2 linked regions of the Homo sapiens genome follow. The protein of the gene in region 1 purifies or fractionates together with the protein of each later gene. This does not show direct contact. Each region holds a gene or a part of one and is shown in the gene's direction. Other genes may lie near its edges.

Region 1 (7,042 bases):
AACCTAGAAATCTGACAGTGAAGGTTTTTTCTTGTAAGAGAGCTCCAATGGGAAACATGTTTTCATATTATTACCCAAAGGGAACAATTTCAGGAAGGAGTGTTTTGTTGGCTTCTTTTTTGTAATAATTTTATGGATTTTTAAAAGGATGTAATCTTCTTAAAGCACTCTGTGAACATCCATTGCAGTCTGTTCCTCATGGCAGGGAATCCATAGACAAGGAATGCCGGTATGACCAGCCTGACGTGAAGGCCTGGCTGTTGTCAGCGTAACCTCTCTAGGTGCAAACATTAGCAGGGTTGTTGCATTATTCTTAATGCTTCTATCTCTGGAAAGAGTTCCACAGCAAGGCAAGTTTACACAGTTGGCCAAAATCAGGTCTCAGGACTTGGCGTAAACTTCATTTGTGGCACTTCCACGTCTCTTCTCCTGCCATAGCTATCTGAGAATTTCCCCTTAATAGCTTCTCTGACCCAGGATTCTGTATGATCCTGCATTAGCTCCACGGGACTATAAGCCAAAGGACAGCATGACTATAGGCAGGTCTCTGGGGTAAAAGTAAATTGTGGCCAGGCACAGTGGATCACGCCTGTAATCCCAACACTTTGGGAGGCTGAGACAGGAGGATCACTTGAGGTCAGGAGTTCGAGACCAGCCTGGCCAACATGGTGAAACTCCATCTCTACTAAAAATACAAAAAAATTAGCCTGACGTGGTGGCGCACACCTGTAGTCCCAGCTACTTGGGAGGAGGCTGAGGTGGAGAATCACTTGAACCTGGGAGGCCGAGGTTGCAGTGAGCTGAGATCGTGCCACTGCACTCCAGCCTGGGCAACAGAGTGAGACTCTATCTCAAAAAAAAAAATGTGAATTGTGTGTTCAGATCATTTTCTTGGGGCATAGAAAAATATTGAGAGCCAGAGAAGTTGGACAAGAGTATCTGAGACCCAGTCTATCTTCCTGGTGTGAAAATTTACCAGTTTCTGATAGAATCTGATCTTGTGTATCTTTTTTGTTTTCTGAGGTATAAAAACATATTCCAGAAAAGTCTTCTAAGACTTAATTCACAGGAATCCTGTAGAACAAGATATCTTTGTCAACATGAAGTCCTGTAGGGAAAACTTGGTGTAATATGGGAGCAAATAAGAATAAATGTGTTTTATCATTTTTCCAATAAGCAGGTGTTTGATTTCATTGCACTGCTGGTGCATAAATGAGAAATAATTTCAAAATCGCTTTGCCTTGCTTTTTTTTATGTGAAGATGAAAGGTTGAAATACCATAACATGAATCTTTTGTGAGCTTTGGTATTTATGTATAAAAGTGGGCACAAATTATACACTTGAACAAAAGAAATTCAGGGAGGAACATGGTGTATGATTTGTTCTACTTCAGTCTTTGAAACTTGTTTCATTTAAAATAAGCTGATTTAACCATTGATTGAACCCGAGCTTGCCAAGCACTCCCATCAATCACAGCCCTGTTCTGTACTTGTTCCCTCGCCTCCCTCCTCCCTCGTCACAATCCAGGCTCAGCGGTAGCGTGTACAGGAGGGAGAGCCAGAAAGCCTGGGTTCAGATTTCACCTTGGCCACTTTCTGTTTATCTGTGCAATGAGGATGGTTGTATTAGGTTGGTGCAGAAGTAATTGCTGTTTTTGCCATTACTTTTAATGACAAAAACTGCCGTGACTTCTGCACCAACTTAACAGTATCTACATCTGGGGTTGTTCTGAGGCTTACATGTGTTAATGGTTAGCACTGAGAGCAGCATCTGGCATCTTGTAAGTGCTCAGTAAAAGTTATCATCACCATCAGCAGCAGCATCATATTCTCCCTCTAAAATGTGTGTCCACAAAAACAACACTTTGATTCCCCATTTAATCTTTCATCCCAAGGGGCCATGGCAAGTTGCTGTAGGGATTAACAGTGGGAACACAAGGAATGATTAGGACTCCTTTCTAAAACTCCCACCCTTGCAAATAGTAGGAATAGCTCTCTGTGGAGTCTGTTTCCTGGCAGCCTCTTTAAGCTCAGCTGTTTTTAGCAGCTGAGAACTTGGAGAATTAAGAGTGTTCCAGAAGTGCTGTGACCTCAGCTTTGCTGCATCATTCCTTTGAGTGGGGTTAGGCTGGCGTGGCTGGTGAGGAGCTGTTGTCCCAAGGCTATGTAATTCTTGGTGTGGGGAAGAGTCATCATGTTTGGTTGATGGCAAATTATTGGGAATAAAGAAAACTCAGGTTTTCCAGCTAAGAAATACAGAATTTTGTGCAACTTGGAACCACAGTTATTTATTTCACAAACACTTTCAAAGCACTCTGTGCCAGGGGTGGTTCTGATTACTATGCATTAGGTTACTGTTATTATCCTCATTTTACAAATGAGGCAACAAAAGTAAAAAGGACACCCAGATGGGGACATGGCAGAGCCAGGCCTTGAACTCAAGGGGTTTGATTACCATCTGTATCAGTTCTCCAGGATAACTGGAGTTCTCCAGAAAAACAGAAAATCAGTTCTCCAGAAAAACAAAACCAATAGGATTGGTTTATGCAATTGGAGAGGCTGGCAAGTCCCATATCTGTAGGGAAGGCTGGCAGACCGGAAACTAGGCAGGAGCTCATGGTGCACTCTTTACTTAGAATTTCTTCTTTCTCAGGGAAAACTCAGTTTTTCTCTTAAGGCCTTTTAACTAATCATATGAGGCCCACCCACATTATCAAGGAAAAATCTCCTTTCCTTAAAGTCAACCACCCAGCCTGGGAAACATAGGGAAACTCCATCTCTACAAAAGTTAAAAAAAATTAGCCAGGTGGGGTGGCACATGCCTGTGGTCCCAGCTACTTGAGAGGGTGATGTCAGAGGATTGCTTGGGCCTTGGAGGTCAAGGCTGCAGTGAGCTGTGATTACACCACTGCACTTCAGCCTGAGCAACAGAGCAAGACTCTCTCAAAAATTAAAAAAAAAATAAAGTCAACTGATTATAGATGTTAACCACATCTACAAAATACCTTCACAGCAACATTTAGATGAATCTTTTATTGGATAATGGTACTATAGCCTAGCAAAGTTGACACAAAGAACTAACTAGGCCAGGCACAGTAGCTCACACCTGTAATCCCAGCATTTTGGGAGGTCGAGGCAGGAAGATCACTTGAGGTCAGGAGTTCGAGACCAGCCTGGTCAATATGGCGAAACCCTGTCTCTACTAAAAATACAAAAATTAGCCAGGCATGGTGGCATATACCTGTAGCCCCAGCTACTCAGGAGGCTGAAGCACAAGAATCACTTGAACTGGGAAGGTGGAGGTTGCAGTGAGCCAAGATCACACCATTGCACTGTAGCCTGGGTGACAGAGTAAGACTGTTTCAAAAAAACAAAAAACCACAACAACAAAAAAAGAAAGAAACCCTAACCATAAAAGGATCCATGCCTTTAAACAGTACCTCAAGCTGAGAACCTTATGAGTTGGGTGTGAGATTCACAGTTAACTAAATAATTTAGCAATAGGCTATCCCATTACAAAATGCTGCACCTTACCTTGTTTAAAATAGAATTTGGACCTCTTTTCTCGTCCAGGTGGCTTCTAGCCCAGAATATTGCTCAGAGTAACCATTCAACAGATAATATTGAAAGAATGACTGAATGGTTTTAGGTGATATTTTACAGGATTTTCCAGCTACTGAGACCTCTGGCTCCCCATTTAAATTTTTTTTCTTTTTCTTTTTCTTTTTCTTTTCCTTTCTTTTTGAGATGGAGTCTTACTCTGTCGCCCATGCTGGAGTTCAGTGGTGCGATCTCTGCTCACTGCAACCTCTGCCTCCCGGTTCAAGCAATTCTCCTGCCTCAGCTTCCCGAGTAGCTGGAATTACAGGCATGCACCACCACACCCAGCTAATTTTTGTATTTTTAGTAGAGACGGGGTTTCACCATGTTGGCCAGGCTGGTCTGGAACTCTTGGCCTCAGGTGATCCGCCCGCCTCAGCTTCCCAAAGTGCTGGGATCACAGGCGTGAGCCACTGCGCCTGGCCTCCCTTTTAAATTAGAAATCATCTGGCCCATGCTGGGCGCGGTGGCTCATGCCTGAAATCCCAGCACTTTGGGAGCCTGAGGCGGGTGGGTCATAAAGTCAGGAGTTCGAGACCAGCCTGGTCAATATGGTGAAACCCCGTCTCTACTAAAAATACAAAAATTTAGCTGGGCGTGGTGGCAGGTGCCTGTAGTCCCAGCTACTCAGGAGGCTGAGGTAGAAGAATCGCTTGAACCCAGGAGGCAGAGGCTGCAGTGAGCCCAGATCGCGGCACTGCACTCCAGCCTGGGTGACAGAGCCAGACTCCATCTCAAAAAAAAAATCATCTGGCCCAAGTAAGATTGAGTTTTTGTGAATGACTAGATTCTTTTGGAAAGAAAGGAGAACTTCTGCATTCTGAATTGTGCACGTGTCACTCCCTACTACCTAACATCTGTCCACTTTCATTGGTTTGGCAAAGGGGTTGAGGTCTGTTGCTGCCTGGACTCCCTGTGAATGTGTGTCTCCCACATGTTAGTAGTGCCCGGTACTCAATCACACCATCTTTGTGTCACTCCAGTGTCCATTTCTAAGCTGCCCCTTTGTTGATTTCAAATCCGCCATGGGCTGACTCGAAATTCTCACGCCTTGGGTCTTTATTCTCCCTTCTTTTGTCTGGTCCTGTCCCTCCCTTTGTCCTTCTGCAGAGCAAGATCCACTATTGATACAGAAGCCGCCTCCTTTCTAATTTTTTACTTCGGATTTCTGACCTTGTAGATTGATATGTTTGTTCTGTTATAAAATTCAAAAACAACCCCCAATTTTTTCATTTAATATCTTTTTGCTCTTGTTTCCAGCATACGTGAAACACTTTCAACCTTAATGAAGTTACTTAAATTGTTTTAAGTTTGCCGTATTGTCAAGTGGCAATACACATACATGAAACAGTCACTTTTGGGGGGTACAGTGGCTGAGGGTGCATTTTAAAAAAAACTAGTAAAGTATAACAGATAAACTGAGAAGTGTACAAACCATAAGTGTATAGCTTGATGAGACATACCCATGTAATCTGCACCAAATTAAGAAACAGAAAATTGGAGTCTCTGAGCCTACTATGGCTCAGAAGCCTGCCTGATTCAAAATCTTATTATTTAAAAAAGGGAAAAAAAGAAAGAAACAGAATTATCAGTACTCAAGGAGAGTCTCTAGTTACTTAGTATTCTTCCTCCATATCCTGACTGCTTATACACAGATCAATCAGCTTTGCCTATTTTTGAATTTTTACAAATGGAATCATGTAGTGGATATTCTCTCACCAGGGGCTTCTTGTGCTCAAGGTTATATTTGCGAGATTTCTCTTACTGTTGTATCTAATTTGCTTATTTTTTTCATTGCTATATAGCATCCCATTGTATGTATGTACCAAATGTGTCAGTTATGTTGCTAATGGTATTTGGATAGTTTCCGGTTTGGGGCTTTCATGGACAGTGCTGCTGTGAACATTCTAGTAGGTGTTTCTGTTGGGTATATATATACCTAGGAGTGAAATTACTGGGTCAGGGATACACACATGTTCTGTTTTAGTAAATTGTGCCAAATGCTAAGATTAATGGAGAAATTAAAAAAAAAATCCTCTGAAGTATACAATGCAGCTGTTTAAACCAAAATCCTAAAGACTGGCACAATATTATGGCTGGATCAGAGGTTGACTTCCAACTCTTATTCTTCAGCAAAAAGTAGAACTTTAAGCTATATCTCTGACTCCACAGTAATCTATCAGTTAAAAAAATTATATATATTATATATACATATATAATATATGTAATAAATATTATATATGTATATATAATATATATTATACTAGTTTTCAAGAATTGTCCACAAATAACCAATTGATTGGCTGAAATGAACACTTTTAAACTAAGCGGTGTACGTCTACCTTAGTCTTGCTACTGCAGTTTTCTTAACTCATGTTTCTTGAGGAAAAGATGAAAATCATATTATAAATGCAACATTGGTCCAGATATCATTCCAGAGATGTCCTGACAGCCTTGGGCAAGATTAACAAGTGCTTTTTATTGTTAACTAATTTATATTTCTTGTATTGGGTCAAATAGCAATTTTGAATTGTGTGATTTCTGTGGCTTAAAAAAAGTCTCAGCCAGGCGTGGTGGCTCACGCCTGTAATCCCAGCACTTTTCGGGCACAAGGTGGACAGATCACCTGAGGTCAGGAGTTCGAGACCAGCCTGGCCAACATATAGCGAAACCCCGTCTCTACTAAAAAACACAAAACTTAGCTGGGCGTGGTGGTGCACACCAGTAGTTCCAGCTACTTGGGAAGCTGAGGCAGGAGAATCGCTTGAACCCGGGAGGTGGAGTTTGCAGTGAGCCGAGATTGCTCCACTGCCCTCCAGCCTGGGCGACAGAACAAGATTCTGTCTCAAAAAAAAAAAAGAAAAAAAATCCCACAAAAGTGTCAGCTTGGAATCACAGAGTTCAGATTTCTTATTTGGCCAGACAGGATATTGATTTCTAATAATGGCCAGAATTCTTATTTCTTATAATAATTTCAGATTTCCTATAATGGCCAGACAGGACACTGCCTTTTTTAAATTTAGAAATAGAATTATGACATGTATCTTATTTTCTGTAGGTTTCTGGAAAAACTTAAAATAGATGTGATTTTTACAGTTGGATTATAATGGAAAGAACCTCTGCAACTAATGAAAAAAGTAAAGATAAGGCACAACAATATGAGCACTAACCTTCAGCCTGTCGCATCTCATGTTCATGGCCAGTATCGTCATGTGGCCCAGGAGAGATGGCAGTGATGGGCATGGCCAGTGTGCATAAAGGACAGTGGTTGAGGCATAATTATAGGATGGTGGTAATGAAACACGAGCAGCCAGAGGAGCCTGCCAAGGCAGTCATGAACTCCTAACTTGGCTGGTTTTTGCCTTATGTGATCCATTCACAGCCCAAATTGTTCCTGAGAAAGATTTTTTTTAGCATGTGGTCTGCCATGTTTGGTATTTGTC
Region 2 (7,042 bases), about 73 Mb from region 1:
GGGGATGAAAAGGGAATAGTGATTGTGAGGAAGTATGAGAGGGATCTGTGGGGTAGTGGTGATGTTCTGTTTCATGATTTAGGGGATGGATACACAAGTGTGTTCACTTTGCAATAGTTCATTGCACTATATACTTATATTTTTAGCTTTTCTGTATATATATTAGACCTAATTTAAACGTTTTTAAAATAGGCTATTTCAGTAAATTCATATGAGAACTTATATAGAATGTATTCATTTTTCTATTCAAAGATTAGCTTAAAATTTTATGAAAACATTTAATTTCAAAATAAATTAGCCCTTTTAAAGAGGTTTTGATATAGTTAAAAAAAAAGTTCACAGATGTTTGGAATCAGAAATACCTGTGTTTAGATCCAAGCTCTGACTTTTTTTTTTTTTTTTAAGACGGAGTCTTGCTCTGTCACCAGGCTGAAGTGTAGTGGCGTGGCTCTACAACCTCCGACTCCCTGGTTCAAGCAATTCTCCTGCCTCAGCCTCCCAAGTAGCTGGGATTACAGGCACGCACTACCATGCCCAGCTAATTTTTGTATTTTTAGTAGAGACAGGGTTTCACCATGTTGGCCAGGATGGTCTCAATCTCCTGACCTTGTGATCCGCCCGCCTCAGCCTCCCAAAGTGCTGGGATATCAGGTGTAAGCCACCATGCCTGGCCTTTTCTTTTTTTTTTTTTGAGACAAGGTCTCGCTCTGTCACCCAGGCTGGACTGCAGTGACATGATATCGGTCACTGCAACCTCTGCCTCCTGGGTTCAAGGGTGATTCTCGTGCCTCAGCCTCTCAGGTAACTGGGATTACAGGCATGCACCACCATGCCTCGTATTTTTTTTGTGTGTGTGTTTAGTAGAGACGTGTTTCACTATGTTGTCCGGGCTGATCTCCAACTCCTGTAGTCAAGTGATCTGCCCGCCTCAGCCTCCCAAAGTGCTGGGATTATAGACATGAGCCACCACACCTGATGTCTGATGCTTATTTATTATGTGACCTTAGCGAAGTGTGGTAGTCATTAGTGCTGGTCTATCTCTATACCTTCCCCAGGCAAGGTAGGATTGCACTTCCCGCTCCACTTGTGATTAGGTGGAGCCATGTGACTACTTTTGGCCGATAAGTTATGAGTGGAATTTAAAATAACTAGTACGTATGTTGAAAGAGGTAAATAAATGTATGAAAATATAAAGCATTCAGAAGACAATTGTCCATAAAAAAGAACCAAGTGGGTATCCTGGAAATTCAAAATACAATGTCTGAAGTTGAGAATTAGATTTGTTACAAACCAGATGGCACACATCAGAAATCTGAATGAGAAAACTCAGAAGCAAGTTAACAGAAAATATCCAAACTGAATCACAGAAGAAGACTAAAAGAGAGCATGGGAGTTATGTGAGACACAGACAAAAGTTCCAACATCGATGAAATTGGAATCCTGGAAGAAGAGAGAGGGGAAGGGCAAGAGAAATATTTAAAGAAAAAAGTAATTGAGAATTTTCCAAATCTGATGAGAAACTTTAAATCACTGAATCAAAAAGTTCACTAAGCCCAACAGGGTGGACACAAGTGCACACACAAACATACACACAAAACCCATCCAAGTACATTATAGTCAAGTTCCTGAAAATCAAAGATAAAGAGAATTTAAATGCATTTAGAGAAGACAGGACATATTTCCTTCGAAGGAATCATAGAAGACTGACAGTTGACTTTTAGACAAAATTATTGAAGCTAGAAGCTAATGGAATAATGTCTTTAAAGTGCTGAAAGAAAAAAAAAACCTAGCTGGAATTCTTTACCTGAAAATATTTTTCACAAAATCAAGGTGCTTTAAACCAAAGAAATAACTCAAGCTAAAGGATTTTATTACCATCAGAATTGCATTTCATGATATACTGAGGGAAAGTCTTCAGGCTAAAGGAAACGTATCCATATGGAAGCGTGAAACTAATGCACAGAGTAAAGAGTGCTAGAAGGTGTAACAATATGAGACAATATTGACTATTTCAAATAACAATAATAATGTCTTGTGGTATTTGTAACATACATAAAAGTGAAAGATATGGCAACAGGACAAAGCCAGAATGGGTAAATACAGTTAAATTGTTGTATGGTTTGTACACTGTTTTGGAGGTAGTAACAGTACCAATTTAAAGTAGACTGCTAAATCAGGTTTGCATATTCTGTTGTCTTGGGTAACCACCAATAGGAAGGTAAAATTAAAAAAAAGCTATAGTGGAATAGTAAAGTAATACTGGATTAATCCAAAAGAAAATGGGAGGGAAGAATAGAGAAGGAGAGAATAAGTGGGACAACTAGAAAAGAAATAGAAAAATGGGGATTTAATTTACATTAAATGTGAAGACCTAAATTTCCCATTTAAAAACTAAATGTTGGCAGATTGGATTAAGTGAAGTATAGCTACATGCTGTTTACACACGAGGTAAACTTTAGGTGTAAGAACACAAAAAAAGGTTAAAATTAGTAGGATGGCAACAAAGACTGACAAACAAAAGCCTGATATGGCAAAGTGACTATCAGATAAAGTATTCTTTAAGGCAAGGAATATCAGAAGAAATAAAGACATTTATGATGAATGGGCCAGTTCAACAGAAAAAAAATGTGTAATAATATGCCTAAATTTTTATGCACCTAACAACAAGTGTACACACACACATATGGAGAGAACAAAAGGAGACAAAAGCAAAAGGGGAAATAATTGGAGATGTTGAACAAAACTTTTAGTAACTGATAAAGTAAGGATTGCAAAATAAGTAAGGATATAGATACAACATACTTCAGCACTTAGATTTAATTAATATGTGTCACTACATACAACTACTGCAAAAACATAGCCATTTAGGCTCCCATGACCATAGGCAGAGCGTTGGAGTTGGCCTGTGGTTGTGTTTGCCAACTCCTGGATTAGGCCATGAAAGAAGTCGTAATAAATATTAAAAGATTGAAACCAGACTGTATATGTTCTTTAAACACTGTGGACTTAAACTAAAATTAAATAGCACATAAATAGAATATCTTCAGATATTTTGAAATTAAGCAATATATTTTTATATAATGATGGGTAAAATGAATCACAACATAAAGTAGAAAATTTTCTAATTATCTAATAATTATTAGAATTATTAGAATTTCTAATAATTATTAGAAAATTTTCTTTCTTTTTTTTTTTTTTTTTTTTGAGATGGAGTCTCGCTCTGTTGCCCAGGCTGGAGTGCAGTGGCACGATCTCAGCACGCTGCAAGCTCTGCCTCCCAGGTTCACATCATTCTCCTGCCTCAGCCTCCCCAGTAGCTGGGACTACAGGCACCTGCCACAACGCCTGGCTAATTTTTTGTATTTTTAGTAGAGACAGGGTTTCACTGTGTTAGCCAGGATGCTCTCGATCTCTGACCTCGTGATCTGCCCGCCTCTGCCTCCCAAAGTGCTGGGATTACAGGTGTGAGCCACCGCACCCGGCCAGAAAATTTTCTATTTTGCCTGAATGATAATGAAAATACAGATATCAAACACTGTGGGATGCAATGCAACAGTGCTTAGAGGGAAACTTACTGTTTTAAATGCCCATACTACCAAAGAACAGCTGATAGTCAGTGATCTTTAGGCTTCCATTTCAAGATGCTAGGAAAAGAAAAGCAAATAGAATCCAAAGAGAGTACAAAGAAGGAAATAAAGGAGCCAAAATCAGTAACAAGACAGGAAAAATACAGCCCAATGTTTCTTACGAATATAGTTGCAAAAATCCTAAATAAAATATTAGCAAACTGAATCCATTGATACCCTTAAAGAATATCACATCAGTAGCAAGCAGGTTAAGTTTTGTTTAATCCTGGAAAATCAAGCAATGTAATTCACCATCTTTACAGAAAAAAGAAAAATGATATGATGCATCTCTCAGGAAACTACGAATAAAAAGGAACTTTCTTAATTTTTTAAAAGTCTACAAAAATGAGATAGCAGCTATCATAATTAATGATGAAATAATGTTTTCCCATTGAATGAGAAGGTAACACTGTTTTATTCTCACTGCCACTCAGCATTTCACTGGAGATTCTAGATAGCTATGTATTAAGATTGGAAAAATAAAAGATAAAACAAAAAACTGTCATTATTTGTAGATGACCTGGCATACATAGAAACTCCAGAAGAATGTAGGAACTATTAGAAATTATAAATGATTTATCCAGATTGCTGACTACAAGGTCAATATAGAGGTTATCAAACATAACTATATACTTAGAAAAAACAAATAGGAAAAAAACTTTAAACAATTTATGTAAACAAATTCCTTGGAATAAATCCTGAAATAGCTGAAAGATGTTTAATACCTCTACACTGAAAATTTCATTTCAATACACTGAAAACATGAAACATTTCTGAGAGAAATTAAAGCAGACTTAAATGGATGGATATATCATTTTTTTTCATGGATTGCAAAACTCAGTATTGGCAAGACGTCAGTTCTCTGCTGATTGAATGGTAAATTCAGTGCAATCTCAGAGAAAATCCTAGCCAGTGTTTTTGGTGGAAATTGATGAATGGCCAAGGCAACAGTGAAGAAAAACAACAAAGCTGGAGGATTTACACTGGCAGATTCCAATACTTACTATAATGCTGCAGTAATTAGGACAGCATTGTATTGGCTTAAAAATAGACACATTGAAACTGACTCTCACATATACAGTCTCTTGATTTTCTGAAAGATGCTAATGGAATTCAATGGGGAAAAATTCAATGGGGAAAAAAGAGTCAGTTGCTTTTTTATATGGAAAAAAATAAACCTGAATACCTATCTCACATCATATAACAAAATTACAATTAAGTATCTAGGAGTCATAGGAGACTGTTTTCAAGGACTTGGGGTAGGCAGTTGTTTCTTAAATAAGACACAAAAAGCATAACAATAAAACTTCTGTTCCTCAGAGGCCCCCAAAAAAGTGAGAAGGGGATGAGTATACAAATATCTTACTGAGACCTCTAATGCAGAATAAATAATGCCTATGATTCAAAAAGAAAAAGCCAATCTGTCTAAACACAGTAAGTACTCACTTAACACCATTGATAGAAACAACTTTAGCTGAAACTACGTAATAGGCAAAGAGTTAAAAACTAGATCTCAAAGTGAGCAATTAACATCTAAAAGACTGCACAACATAATTAGTGCTCAAATGCAAATTAAAATGAAAGTAAGTTAGTACATCCCCACCAGAGTAGCTGAAATGAAAAGAACTGGCAATACTTAGTTTTTATTTGCAGCAATTGGAACTCTTAAATTACTGATGGAAGCATAAGTTTGTACAACAACTTAAGAAATGTGTTTGTTAGCACCTGCTAGAGCTAAACTCGTACAACCTCTGATGTGGCATTTCTACTTTTGAGTATATACTAGATAAAAATGAATGCTTATGTCCATCAAAATATGTGTACAGGAATGTTCATTGCAGCTTTATTTATATATGCCAGAAACATTTGGGGAACAGTTCAATTGTTCATCACTAGTAGAATGAGTAAATAAATCAAGTCATACAGTGTAATATTACACAGCAATTTTTAAATTTTTTAAAATATTAATTTAAAAATATTACTGAGACATATAACAATAAGAATGAATCTCACAGAATGATAATTTAGTGAGAAGTCAGATACAAAAAAGTACATTCCATTTATAAATATCCATTTATAGAAGTTAGAAAACAGGATAAAGTAATCCAAAGTGACAGAGGTGAGAATGGTGGTTACCTTTAGGAGGGGCACACTGAGTGGGATAGTGCACAAGGGAACCTTCTTAGGCCCTGGGAATGAACTACATGATGATGGCACGGGTACACATGCAAAGGTTGAGATATACACCTAAGATTTGTGGACTTGACTCTGTAATTACAGTCTTCCATCAATTTGAATAAATAGGCTTTGAGGAGTATTGCCACTTATTCTTTCTTTTCATAGAGAACACTACCCAGTTTTTATTGCTTTATGTGTCCATTTGTTTGTTTATTTATTTATTTGAAACTGGGTCTCACTCTGTCACCCAGACTAGAGTGCAGTGGGACAGTCTTGGCTCACTGCAACCTCCACCTCCCAGGTTCAAGCAATTCTCATGCCTCAGCCTCCCAAGTAGCTGGAATTACAGGCATGTTCCACCACACCTGACTAATTTTTTTACTTTTAGTAGAGATGGGGTCTCGCCATATTGGCCAGGCTGGTCTCAAACTTCTGACCTCAAGTGATCCGCCCACCTCGGCCTCCCAAAGTGTTGGGATTACAGGCGTGAGCCACCACGCCTGGCTCATTTAACTTGTGTAAAATAACATGTAATCCTCCATTTCTCACCACTGCACACATTTGATAGATTTTATAGCAGTAACCCTAGCTCCTAGTACAACAGTGGCTCTGGGTTGCTGTTGGAAAACAGCCTTTGGTCGACCCTAAACACAGTTGTGGTAGACATCTCTTCTTTTCCTCTCAAAGCCTGGGTCTTAGGCTGCCCTCTTATGACTTTTCCCCATAGAGGGGTTAATTGGTGAACCTACTGAAATGTTGCATCAATTCTTTGGAAAGTACATATGTACATTTTTCTTCCATATGTTTTCTCTACACAAAGACTTTTAATAATTTGCACTTCCTCTTCCACTTAGTTTTGAGGGATCCTTGGAGAACTCCTTTAGTTTTGTTGAGCCTAAGGTTTAATCCTTAGAAAATGTGTAAGCATTTATTTTATGTGTTTTAAAAGACTAAATTGTGAAGTGCTGTCCTCACAAATGTATCACCAAATGGTGGACGTCAACAAAGAAAACAGTGATTCATTCAGTGTCGAGATGAGAAGTGATTGTTTCTTGGCCTTTTGGCTAAGATCAAGTGTAGATGGGAAGTGAATTTTATGAAATTTGGAGTTCAGTTAAAGCACCCTTTAGAATGTGAGGAGTAGAGACTTAAATGTATTCATTAGAAAAGAATGATTAAAAATAAATGTAAATGAAATGTATTTTTAACACTAGAAACTTTATCAGGATTAATTAAGC

What was found.
Region 2: the proteins of DPYSL5 (region 1) and LONRF2 purify together in Homo sapiens (affinity purification with mass spectrometry; 2 studies listed by BioGRID and IntAct, with this or other methods). This does not show direct contact.

The regions. Positions count from the first base shown.
Region 1 is NC_000002.12:26,851,094-26,858,135, forward strand, and holds part of DPYSL5 (dihydropyrimidinase-related protein 5), read left to right. Parts: intron 1-7,042. UniProt on the Homo sapiens protein: Involved in the negative regulation of dendrite outgrowth.
Region 2 is NC_000002.12:100,312,481-100,319,522, reverse strand, and holds part of LONRF2 (LON peptidase N-terminal domain and RING finger protein 2), read left to right. Parts: intron 1-7,042.